2 separate regions of the Homo sapiens genome follow, and region 1 is linked to region 2. A link means that fine-mapping ties the variant in region 2 to the expression of a gene that starts in the linked region. Tissue or cell type: whole blood. Region 2 holds a variant in brackets; the other region holds the start of a gene. All regions are shown on one strand. Distances are between the middles of the regions.

Evidence for each region. PIP is the estimated chance that this variant, and not a neighbour inherited with it, causes the effect.
Region 1: TBC1D2 starts here. The variant in region 2 is fine-mapped to the expression of TBC1D2 in whole blood (TOPMed, PIP above 0.99).

The regions. Positions count from the first base shown.
Region 1 is chr9:98,253,534-98,258,659 of GRCh38, forward strand. TBC1D2 (TBC1 domain family member 2) reads right to left here and starts at 2,116. Exons shown (of 13, transcript NM_001267571.2): 1 at 1,640-2,116. The coding sequence starts at 2,008. RefSeq lists a silencer at 2,131-2,180 and an enhancer at 2,351-2,840.
Region 2 is chr9:98,196,808-98,201,998 of GRCh38, forward strand. TBC1D2 (TBC1 domain family member 2) reads right to left here. Exons shown (of 13, transcript NM_001267571.2): 11 at 4,672-4,857; 12 at 3,446-3,567; 13 at 2,204-2,781. The coding sequence ends at 2,574. Among named protein-coding and RNA genes, the nearest start is that of CORO2A, 6.8 kb to the left of the region's middle. RefSeq lists enhancers at 1,446-2,313, 2,314-3,181, 4,422-4,923, 4,569-4,618, 4,924-5,191. The variant C/T (reference allele first, on the strand shown) is at 2,839.

The DNA.
Region 1 (5,126 bases), 57 kb after region 2:
CTTCAACTCCATCCTTTGGGCCCCTCTGTTTTTCTGGCTCATGTGATTTGCCTGGACACTCAGGGCTGTATCATGGTTTCCTAATTTGCTCACGGTGCTCTCTTGGCCTGGAATACCTTTCTCCCTCTTGTCTGCTTGCCACCTATTTCTTCTTTCAAGCCTTGGGTGTGTCCCTCCTCCAGATGCCTTTCTGGCTAGCCCCTTCCACTTGGTGGAACTGACTCCTCCTGTCACCACACCTTCTTGCACAGACTTATCACATGTCTCTACAGAACATTTCAGGGTGCATGCAGGTTCTCCCTCAGTCTCTCCCACCAGACTTTAAGCTGTCAGAGAACCAGGGGTGGGGGTGCATTAGCTCCACACCCCGCCAAGCGCAGAGCCAGGAACAATGGAATACTATTATAAAGACCATGTGTTGAAGACCCTGCATACAGCAGTCAACCTGTGGAAGAGACACATAGACCCGGGAACCACATGACCTCGAAAATGCCTTCCCTGGCCAGGGATTCCTGAGTTTCATTATTTTAACCAAGTCCCCCAGCCTGGTCACCCGCCAAGTCCAGTCAGTAAAGGAGAACTGAACACGTGGGCATCCACAGATACCCACTTAGCTGGAGTTGGGGTTGGAGGGGTGGACAGATGGGGATGGGGTGGGGAAGGCTATCTCCTGGCACATTCTTCTCTGATGCCCATAGAACACTTAGCCCAGATCTGTCTTTCCAATTAAGTTATGGGACACCTCCTCTTGACATTAGCACTCTGACCTTGGTTCCATCACCTTGTGTGTGCATGTGTGCTTATGCAACAAAAAATTATTAAGTACTCCACTAGGTACCAGGCTGTATTCTAGGTGATGCAATTAATTCAACAATTTGTACATGCCTGTGATGTGTCAAATGCTTACAAACCACCTAGGTTCTGAGAGGTTAAGTAACTTGTCCAGGGTCACACAGCTAGTAAGTAGCAAATGTACAATTTGAATCCAAGCCCGTCTGATTTCAAAGAATGTGGCCTTTCTACTGCTTTAGGCTTTCTCAGTTACACATGATGATAAAACCTACCCCTTGCTGCTGATAGGAAAACAGGTTTAAGCATGCCTAGATGAACAATCTAGGCTGATCAGTGAAACCTAAGTGTTTATTTTCCTAATCCCTGCCAGTCTCTTCTCAGCATTCACTGACCTTGGCCAAAATATCAAGAAACGGGAATCAGAATCCTGGCCTTGAGAGAGGATTGCAAAGACCATATTTTGACTTACTTAGGTCCCAGGTAAGAAAGTTAAGGTAACTGCACTGTCAGGCACACCCAAAAGTAAAAGTTTTGATTCAGCACTGAGAGGTAGAAAGACTATGGGATTCCAAGCTACCCTACTCTCTAGACGCATGGACCTCGAGCCAGTCCTTTCATCTCCCTCTGACTCAGTTTCTTGATCCGTAAAATGGGTCTGTCTTCCCTGCCTTGTGGGAACCCAATGAGGAAATGGGTGGGAATGCACTTTGCAAAGCACAAAGTTCTTGGAACTGTCGTCACCGACACTCCAAATTTACTGTGTCCACCTCACACTCGCGCCCAGCCTTGCCCTGCGAAAAGGGGACCTCACGCCGCTGGAAAGGAGAAAGTCGTTGCAGGAATTTACCTTCAGGGTAATAACCCGGCTGGGAGTCTTGATTTCGAAGATCCCCTCCTCAGCGTCCGCCTTACAGTCAAACACTGCACTGGAGAGGTCGATGCTGTCCAAGGGATTGGCATCCTGAGCGGTCCGCGAGTAATACAGCTGACATTTCCTTTCGTCGTAGAAGAACCAGCGGGATTTCCAGCCCCGGATGGGCCCTTTGCCGCCGAACTTACTTAAATACCCACAGAGTTTCTTGGGGACCGCCTCCAGGGACCGGGCGCAGTCCCCCGATTCTTCCTCCGGAGGCGGCACCTGTGGATCCCTGGCAGACTCTTCGGACCCAGGGGCAGAGGAGCTGGACTCCGGGGCGTTCTCCCCAGCGCCCTCCATCGCTGCCAGCCGGAGACTGCGGAGGGACGAGGGGTCCGCGGGACCACCAGGGACAAATCTCGGAGACTCGGCGGGCAGCTTCCCAAAGGGAGACACCTGGGCGGGGGCGGGGCCGACGGCGAACCCGCCCCCAGGAAGCCACAGAGTCGGGACCGGGTGCGGTGCGCGCGCCTCAAAGATCGCAAACCCAGGTTACGGCGGCTGGCCACGCCCCTCCACCGCCAGGCCACGCCCCCGCAGCGCTCAGTCGGCTCCCTGCAAAGCCCAGCTGCTTCCGGCTTTTTCTCCGCGCCAGTCAGCCATCTTTACTGAGGGCAGCCGTGCTCCCTGGCTTCAGGTTAAAGGCGTGGTGGCACTGAGTTAGGTTAACCGCGGGCAGAGAAGCCTGTCCCTAGCTACACTTCCCTGGTAGTTCGCATAGTCACCTAGAAAGATAGTGCTTTCTTGCACCCGATGGGCTGCTTGTTCCCTCCCTGTGCCGCGCGGGGCACCCTCGGACGGCGCATCTCGCGGCCATTGGCTGAAAGGAAGACCGCTGGGAGGCCCATCTTCCGGCGTCGCCCGGGCAGCGCGGCTCCGGAGCTGTCTGCCACTCTTCTCCTGGTGTTCCTTCAGCCCCGTCAGTGACGCCGCGGACGGCCTTCTTATCCCTCGCCTGACAGCAGTGGCCTCCCCAGCTCTCTGTCCTGGCTCCTATTCGCCTCCTGACAGCGCTGGTTGTGTTGCTTGGGGCGCCCAGGCGCGGCCGCTGCGCTGCGGAAACCCATGCCACTCCTGGGTCATAGTTGGGTGCAGTACATTTATTTTTATTTTGTTATTGCTATTATTATTTTTAGAGACGGTCTGGCTCTGTCACCCAGGCTGGAGTGCAGTGGCGCGATCAGAGCTCACTGCAGTCTCCGCCTCCCGGTCTCAAGCCATCCTCCCGCCTCAGTCTCCCGAGTAGCTGAGACCGCAACTGCGCACCACCACACCCGGCTAATTTTTAAATTGTTTTTTGCAGAGAGGGGGGTCTTGAACTCCTGGCCTCAAGCGATTCTCCTGCCTCGGCCTCCTAAAGTGCTGGAATTACAGGCGAGAGCCACCGCGCCAGGCTGTTTTGTAAATAAGTAAAAGAATTTAGGGTTTGACTAACTTGCTCAACTTCTGCCTCATTTTACCTGTTTCCCCTTAAACTTCTCCCCTTCCCTCCTAAGGCGCATTTCTCCATTAGGGTTGCGGAGCCCAATTGCGTCCAGCTTTCTTTAGGAGCTTCTTTCTGCCTTTCTCTTGCCCTTTGTTCAGCCTTTCCTCTTACTTCATCGTCTCCCCCTCAGCCGTCGTTAACGAGACCCTCATGCACACTCAGTGATATTGACAAGAAGCAGGGTGGGGGTAAAGGCGAGGGCTCTAGAGTCTATTTGCATAATTTTCAGATTCCCACTCTGCAATACTGAGTGATTTGCTCAACCTAAAAATGGAGATAACACTTCTTCCTACCCACCCCCGACCCGCCGCCAGACAACTTTACGGTGAAGCTAATGAAATTTATGTTCACTTGCATGGGTCGCTGGGATTTGTAGTCTAACAGGTGGGGAGTTGCAACCAGGGAGCATTTCTCCTAAATGCCAGAGAGCTCTTCATTTGTTATAATTTACAATTTATTTTCTCATTCTAAATAACCATCGTCATACCTAATTTTGTGTTCATAATTTTGTAATTTTTTAAAAATCAGAAGGCCCTTAATGCTGTTTAATTCCAGTCCCCACAAAACCTGGATCTACACCTGTCTACCCTTAGAGTTGTTTTGATAATTAAATAAAATAATATGTGTGAAGCTCTTAGTACAGAATGTGGGACAAAATATTTCTTTTCTTTTCGAGACAGAGTTTCGCTCTTGTTGCGCAGGCTGGAGTGCAATGGCGCGATCTCGGCTCACCGTGACCTCCGCCTCCCGGATTCAAGCGATTCTCCTGCCACCGCACCCAGCCAGTTTCTTTTCTTTTCTTTTTTTTTAATTTTTTTTTTTTTTTTTTTTTTTGATACAGAGTCTCGCTCTGTCGCCCAAGCTGGAGTGCAGTGGCATGCTCTCCAATTCCCATTCTCCTGCCTCAGCCTCCCGAGTAGCTGGGATTACATACACGCGTCACCATACCCAGCTAATTTTTGTATTTTTAGTTGAGACGGGGTTTCACCATGTTGGCTAGGATGGTCTGGATCTCCTGACCTTGTGATCCACCGGCCTTGGCCTCCCAAAGTGCTGGGATTACAGGCATGAGCCACAGTGCCTGGCCCCATTCCTGATTTTTAAAACCTCTTAATAAAACAAACAGCATACCTTATTTGTTCTAGGTTTTGTAGCTAGGCAATGATAAATATTTGAAAGAATAATTATAAATATATTACGTATACCAGAAAAACTCAAGTGGTGGCCTGTTTTAAAAAACTGTGCATATGTGTATAGATGTCTCCAGCAGCAAACAAATGGAAAATATAATGGACAACATCCCTTACATAAATGACTTACATAATGAATACCTTATTGCTTTATAGTAGGATATAAGACAAACCAAATATGTCCCTGAGTGGGAAGAGTTAATATTGTAAAGATGTCACATTCCTCAAATTAATCCATACAGTTAATACATTTTCAATCAAACTCTCGATAGGCTTTTTTTTTTTTTTTTTTTTTGAGACAGAGTCTTGCTCTGTCACCCAGGCTGGAGTGCACTGGAGCGGTATCGGCTCACTGCAACCTCTGCCTCCTGGGTTTAAGCTATTCTCCTGCCTCAGCCTCCCTAGTAGCTGGGACCACAGGCAGGGCACCATGCTCAGCTAATTTTTGTATTTTCAGTAGCGATGGGGTTTCACCATGTTGGCCAGGCTGGTCTTGAATTCCTGACCTCAAGTGATCCATCCACTTCAGCCTCCCAAAGTGCTAGGATCACAGGTGTGAGCCACCATGCCTGGCCTCGATAGGCTTTAAAAAAACTTTTTATTTTTGAATAGTTTTAGAAAAAGTTACAGAGACAATGGGAGAATTTCTGTAGACCCTACACCCAGTTTCCCCTAATGTTAACATTTTGCTTAATCCTGGTATGTTTGGCAAAAATAAACATCTAACATTGGTACAAAACTA
Region 2 (5,191 bases):
TGGCCTCCCAAAGTCCTGGGATTACCAGCGTGAGCCACGGCGCCTGGCCTACTCAGGTGATTCTCAGGTGCAGCCAGGTAGGAACCAGAGGTTACATTATGCTGGGTCAAATACAAAGTACCACCCACCCCTCTCCACAGGAGGGGAGGGAAAGAGCACAGACACTCAGCTCTGAGCAGAGCTTCTCCTCTGCCTGGGGTTGGGGGGATGTGGGGAGACGGAGGAGAGAGGAAGAGAAGTGGAGAGGGGGAAGAGAGGGAAGAAGAAAAGGGGGGAAGAGGGGAGAAAGGAGGAAGAAGGGAAGGAGAGGAGAATGGGGAAAGAGAAAAAGGGGGATGAGGGAGGACGGGGAGGAAGGAGGGAAGGGGAGGTGGAGGAGGGGGAGGGAAGGGGAGGGAAAAAGGTAGAGGTGGGCTGCCATTTATCCAATAGCCCCTGTGCCCGTTGCCTGATTCTTTTTTGATTGTTGTTGCTGAAGAGGGAATGTGAATTTCAAGGCTAAAGGCAGAGGGACCGCCTGGGCCAGAGCTCCCAGGCAGCCTTGGGGCTTTTGCAGGCCTCAGGGCCCTGCAGGTGGTGTTTCCTTCGTAAGACGGCTGCTCAGGCCGGGTGCGGTGGCTCACGCTTGTAATCCCAGCACTTTGGGAGGCTGAGGCAGGCAGATCACGAGGTCAGGAGATTGAGACCATCCTGGCTAACATGGTGAAACCCTGTCTGTACTAAAAATACAAAAATTAGCTGGGCGTGGTGGCGCATACCTGTAATCCCAGCTACTCGGGAGGCTGAGGCAGGAGAATCGCTTGAACCAGGGAGTCAGAGGTTGTTGTGAGCCGAGATTGCGCCACTGCACTCCAGCCTGGCAGCAGAGGGAGGCTCCGTCTCAAAAAAAAAAAAAAAAATAGGGCTGCTCGTTCCCATCGGTGGCACTTTCCTCTGTGCCAGGCTCCAGGCTCTGCACCAGTTTACCTGCTTTAGCCCTCCTGGGAGCCCCATGGGGCTGGACCTCTCATCATCCCGATGACCAACTTAGGGGCGCAGTATCTAGCTTGTCCAGGGTGCAGCTGGGACCCCCAGGCCGCCCTCATGCCACCATCACACTTCATAAACAGTTTGGTGCTGAAAGGGCCTTAGCGAATGAAAAAAGTTTAGCAATGAGAAAGGCAGTCAAGCCCCAATGCAGGGTGTTCACAGAAAAGTGGAGCCCTCGGGCCAGCCAGGAGCCCACGTGGACAGGGAGGAGAGGAACCCTGAGCGTCTCCTCCCTGAGGCTGCACAGGCGGTGCAGTGTAGGGAACTGGGAGCCTGGTGGGCCAACCCCTCAAATTCACACCTGTGGGTGACAGTGGGGCTAGGGACCAGCCAGGGCCACCACGGGGCCCGTCCATGGTCCCCAGTGATGGGGAAAGTTTCCTCCCCAGCCTGGATGGGAGCCTCAGATCAGAGCCAGGAGGTTCCAGGGCAGCGTCCCCTAATCCTCGGTGGTTTTCCAGAGAGGAGGCTTCCATGTGAGAACCCCCAGTCCTTCATACCAAAGACAGCCAACTCAAGGCTAGGCCAGCACAGACACAGGTTTTGCTGAGAAATGAGTTGCCAAAGTCACTGGTATGGCCTTGACCCCCTGCCTCGGGTGGGGACAGACTGAAGCCTCTATTTGCTGAGGAGGGACCTGGAGGAGGCTGACGCTGGGTTGGGGCCACGGTGGGTGCTGTGACGAGCCAGCCCTGGCTTGCGCTGCAGCAGTCCCTACTTCCCACCTTCTCCCATCCTCCCAACCACCCATTTTTCAGAGGAGAGGTAACCCTCCGTGCCCCAGCCTGTGAAGTGGGCAGTGGGAGGTCACAAGTGGGGCACCTGACCCAGGGCTCTCTGCCCAACCCCCACACCAAGTTCCTGGTGGTGGTGCACAGGGGGTTTCCCTGGGATCCCCCCAAAATGGGCTGTGAGCAGAAAGGAGGGCACAGGGGCCGGGCTTTGGAAACAGGCTTCAGTACACGGAGAGCGTCCCGGAATGCAGACCCAGGCAGTATTGAAAAGGAGCTGCTACCCAGAAAGACAAAACCCTAACATCTCAGGGAACCAGGCAGGGGCTGGCCCTGCAGACGCTCACAGAAATAGCAGCCAGAGATGCCCTAGGCTGGAAGCCTGGTGGTGGCACACCCTGGCACCGTGGGCCCATCCAGGAACAACTGGTAACTGAGAACTGTTTAAGTTCCAAAGCTTATGAATGATTTCCACCATTTACATTGTTTTATATTGATATAACCTAGAGAATGTTCCAGGTTACCCTATAGAGGCAGTGCTCTTGCTTGTTTACATGCCAAAGTGCTCTGTGGAAGAGGTGACGAAAGGGTGGCATCCCTGGGTAAGTAAGTGCCTATGAAGAAGTAGCCCAACCAATGGCTTTGCAGCACACAATGTCCCAGTGGGGAAACTGAGGGCCAGAGAGGGGAAGGGACATGTCCAAGGTCACATGGTGATGGGACACCCAGGGCTGGGCCACTGGTCCGTGCCTGACCTCCAGTGGGTCTGCCAGCCAAGGGTGAGGAAGGCTGTGGGGAGGGGAGGTGGCCAAGTCAGGCTTCCCCCTCCACCTCGTCCTCGCTGGCACAGCCCTCGGACACAGCTCTGCGCCGGGATGCCCGCCTCTCCAGGTACTCTGCCTTAAGCTGCTCCAGCTCCCGCAGCTCAGCCTCCAGCCGCTCCCGGTGGACCATGCGCAGCTGCCGCAGCTGTTTCATGCGGAAGGGGTTCATGTCATTGAAGGCGATGTTCATCAGCTTCCTGGGAGGAGGGCACAATCAGCCCAGAGCACGTCACCCCACCTGGCCGGCGTTTACC[C/T]GGCTCTCCCAGACAGACATCCCCGCATTCCTTCTGCCTTTGTGGCTGAGCCCTGACCCCTGCCCTCAGGAGGAAACAATGAATAAGATGATTTCCACCCACAGAGATATGTACTGAGGCAGGAGGAAGATCAGAAGAAAGACACCTAACCCAGCAGGGAAGGGCTGGTCAGGGAAGGCTTCTTGGAGGAGGTGACCCACGTGTGAGCTGAGTTTTAAGGAATGAATAAAAGGTGACCAGGCAAAGAAGATAGTGGTGGTGGAAGTGGCAAGGAGGCATTCTAAGTAAAAGAAACTGCAAGAGCAAAAGCCCAAAGGTGGGGTTGTCCTAGGAACTCGTATAATTCTGTTTTCCAGGATCACTGGCCATGGGTGTTCAGGGTAGGGGAAGGTGGGCAAAAAATGAAACTCCATGGAGGCCTCAAATGCCATGTTAAGGGGGCAGACATATCACTCAGACAGTCAGACTTCCCCAAAGATTTCTAAGCTATAATACGAGCATCAGCGTCACTTACCAATCTCTACTTGGCAAACATCAGCCTCCCCTCTGCTATGTGTCCTTGGGGGTGTGTGAGTGGTGGGAGTGGCAGGGGGTGGGGGTTCCTCACCGGCTGTTGGAGATGGTCTTGGTGAAGAAGCGCAGGTACTGGTAGATTTCCAGGCCATTCTGTAGCCTCAAGATCTCCTTCTCGTTGTACTTGAAAATGGCCAAGGCATAGCGAAACACCACCTGGGGGTAGAGTGGGGGCTCAGGTAGGGCATGGGGGGGCCAGGCAGGTCATCCCCGGAGGGAGGGAACCTGACAGACTTGGGCAGTATGGAAGACCCTGGACTGGCTGCGGAAGTTGAGGCCTGGAGGCACAATGTGTGGGGATAGGCTCCAGGGGGCTGGGGGAGACTGAATACCCCGGCGGGGTGGTGGGGGGGCGGGGGAAGGGACGCACAGCTTGAAATCTGGGGATTTGGACAGAGTCCTGGCTCTAGCCTGTCTTGTCCCATGACTGTGGGTGAGGCACGGCCCCTGTTGAATCTCATGGAGTTAATCTGTATCTTTACGTGGGGCTTTGGCAAGAACCAGATGAAATGACAGGCCAGACACAGTGGCTCATGCCAGTAATTCCAGCACTTTGGAAGGCTGACACGGGTGGATCATCTGAGGTCAGGAGTTCGAGACCAGCCTGGCCAACATGATGAAACCCCATCTCTACTAAAAATACAAAAATTAGCCAGGTATGGTGTTGCATGCCTGTAATCCCAGCTACTCCGGAGGTTGAGGCAGGAGAACTGCTTGAACCTGGGAGGCAGAGGTTGCAGTGAGCGGAGATCGTGCCACTGCACTACAGCCTTGGTGACAGAGCAAGGCTCCATCTCAAAAAAAAAAAAAAAGAAAGAAAGAAATGAGAAATCTGTGGGTGCTTTGTAAACTGAGGTGTAAACTAGGGCTGAGTTGGGGGACCTGCCCAAGGTCTCTGGGCAAGGTCAGTACAGAGCTGGGTCCAGACCTGAGCTCCGATCTCTTAATCCAAGGTTTAGTCCAAACAGGAGGAAGAAAAGGAGGGCCCAGGTGACTAGGGGGCAAGGACAGCATAGGGATGTGCCTCTCTGATCATGCTCACACCTCCTCTCCACGGAAAGGAAATCCCCCAACTTCAGAGGCAGAACCACTACTTCTCATACATGCAAAGCATTTTGCAGTTGACAATGCTCTCAGGAGACGTTCAACAGCTCTGACAAGTAAGCATTGTCTTCCCATTCTCCAGGGGCAGAGTCAAGACGCAGATGGGTGAAGGGACTTGCTCAGGGGCCCCCTGCCCATCCCCTGGCTGCACCCTACCTTCGTCCCCTCGTACAGGAAGGCATCCCAGACCCGAAGGAGGATGTTGCTAATGAGACTGTCCGCAAAGACCACGAGGAACCAGTTGAAGGTGACGAGGGAGAGATCCACGTGGTGCTGCCCCAGATGGGCCATCAGCCTGGGCAGCTTCTCCGAGAGCAGGTCCTGGAGCACCCGCTGGTCCACCTGGAAGCCAGCGAGAGGGCCTGTCATCTGCAGCCCCAGCGTAGGGCTGCCTCCCTCCCTGCCCAGCCTTCCTACCCAGTCAGTCCACACACAATCCTGAAGCTGCTCTGGGCAGGTCCTTTCCTGCCCAGGAGACACCTCGGGGAGCCAGGGGCCAGTCTAGCTGGGAGTCAGGTACAGCATCATATCACTCCGCTGCTCCTAATATAGGCCAGAGTCCTCTGGACTGGGGCACTGGGCTCTGCAGTGGAGCCATGTGGGCTGGCACGTTCTCCGCCCGCTCACCCATCTGAATCCCTTGAGCCAAGCAGGAGGTCAGGGGCCAGCTGATCCT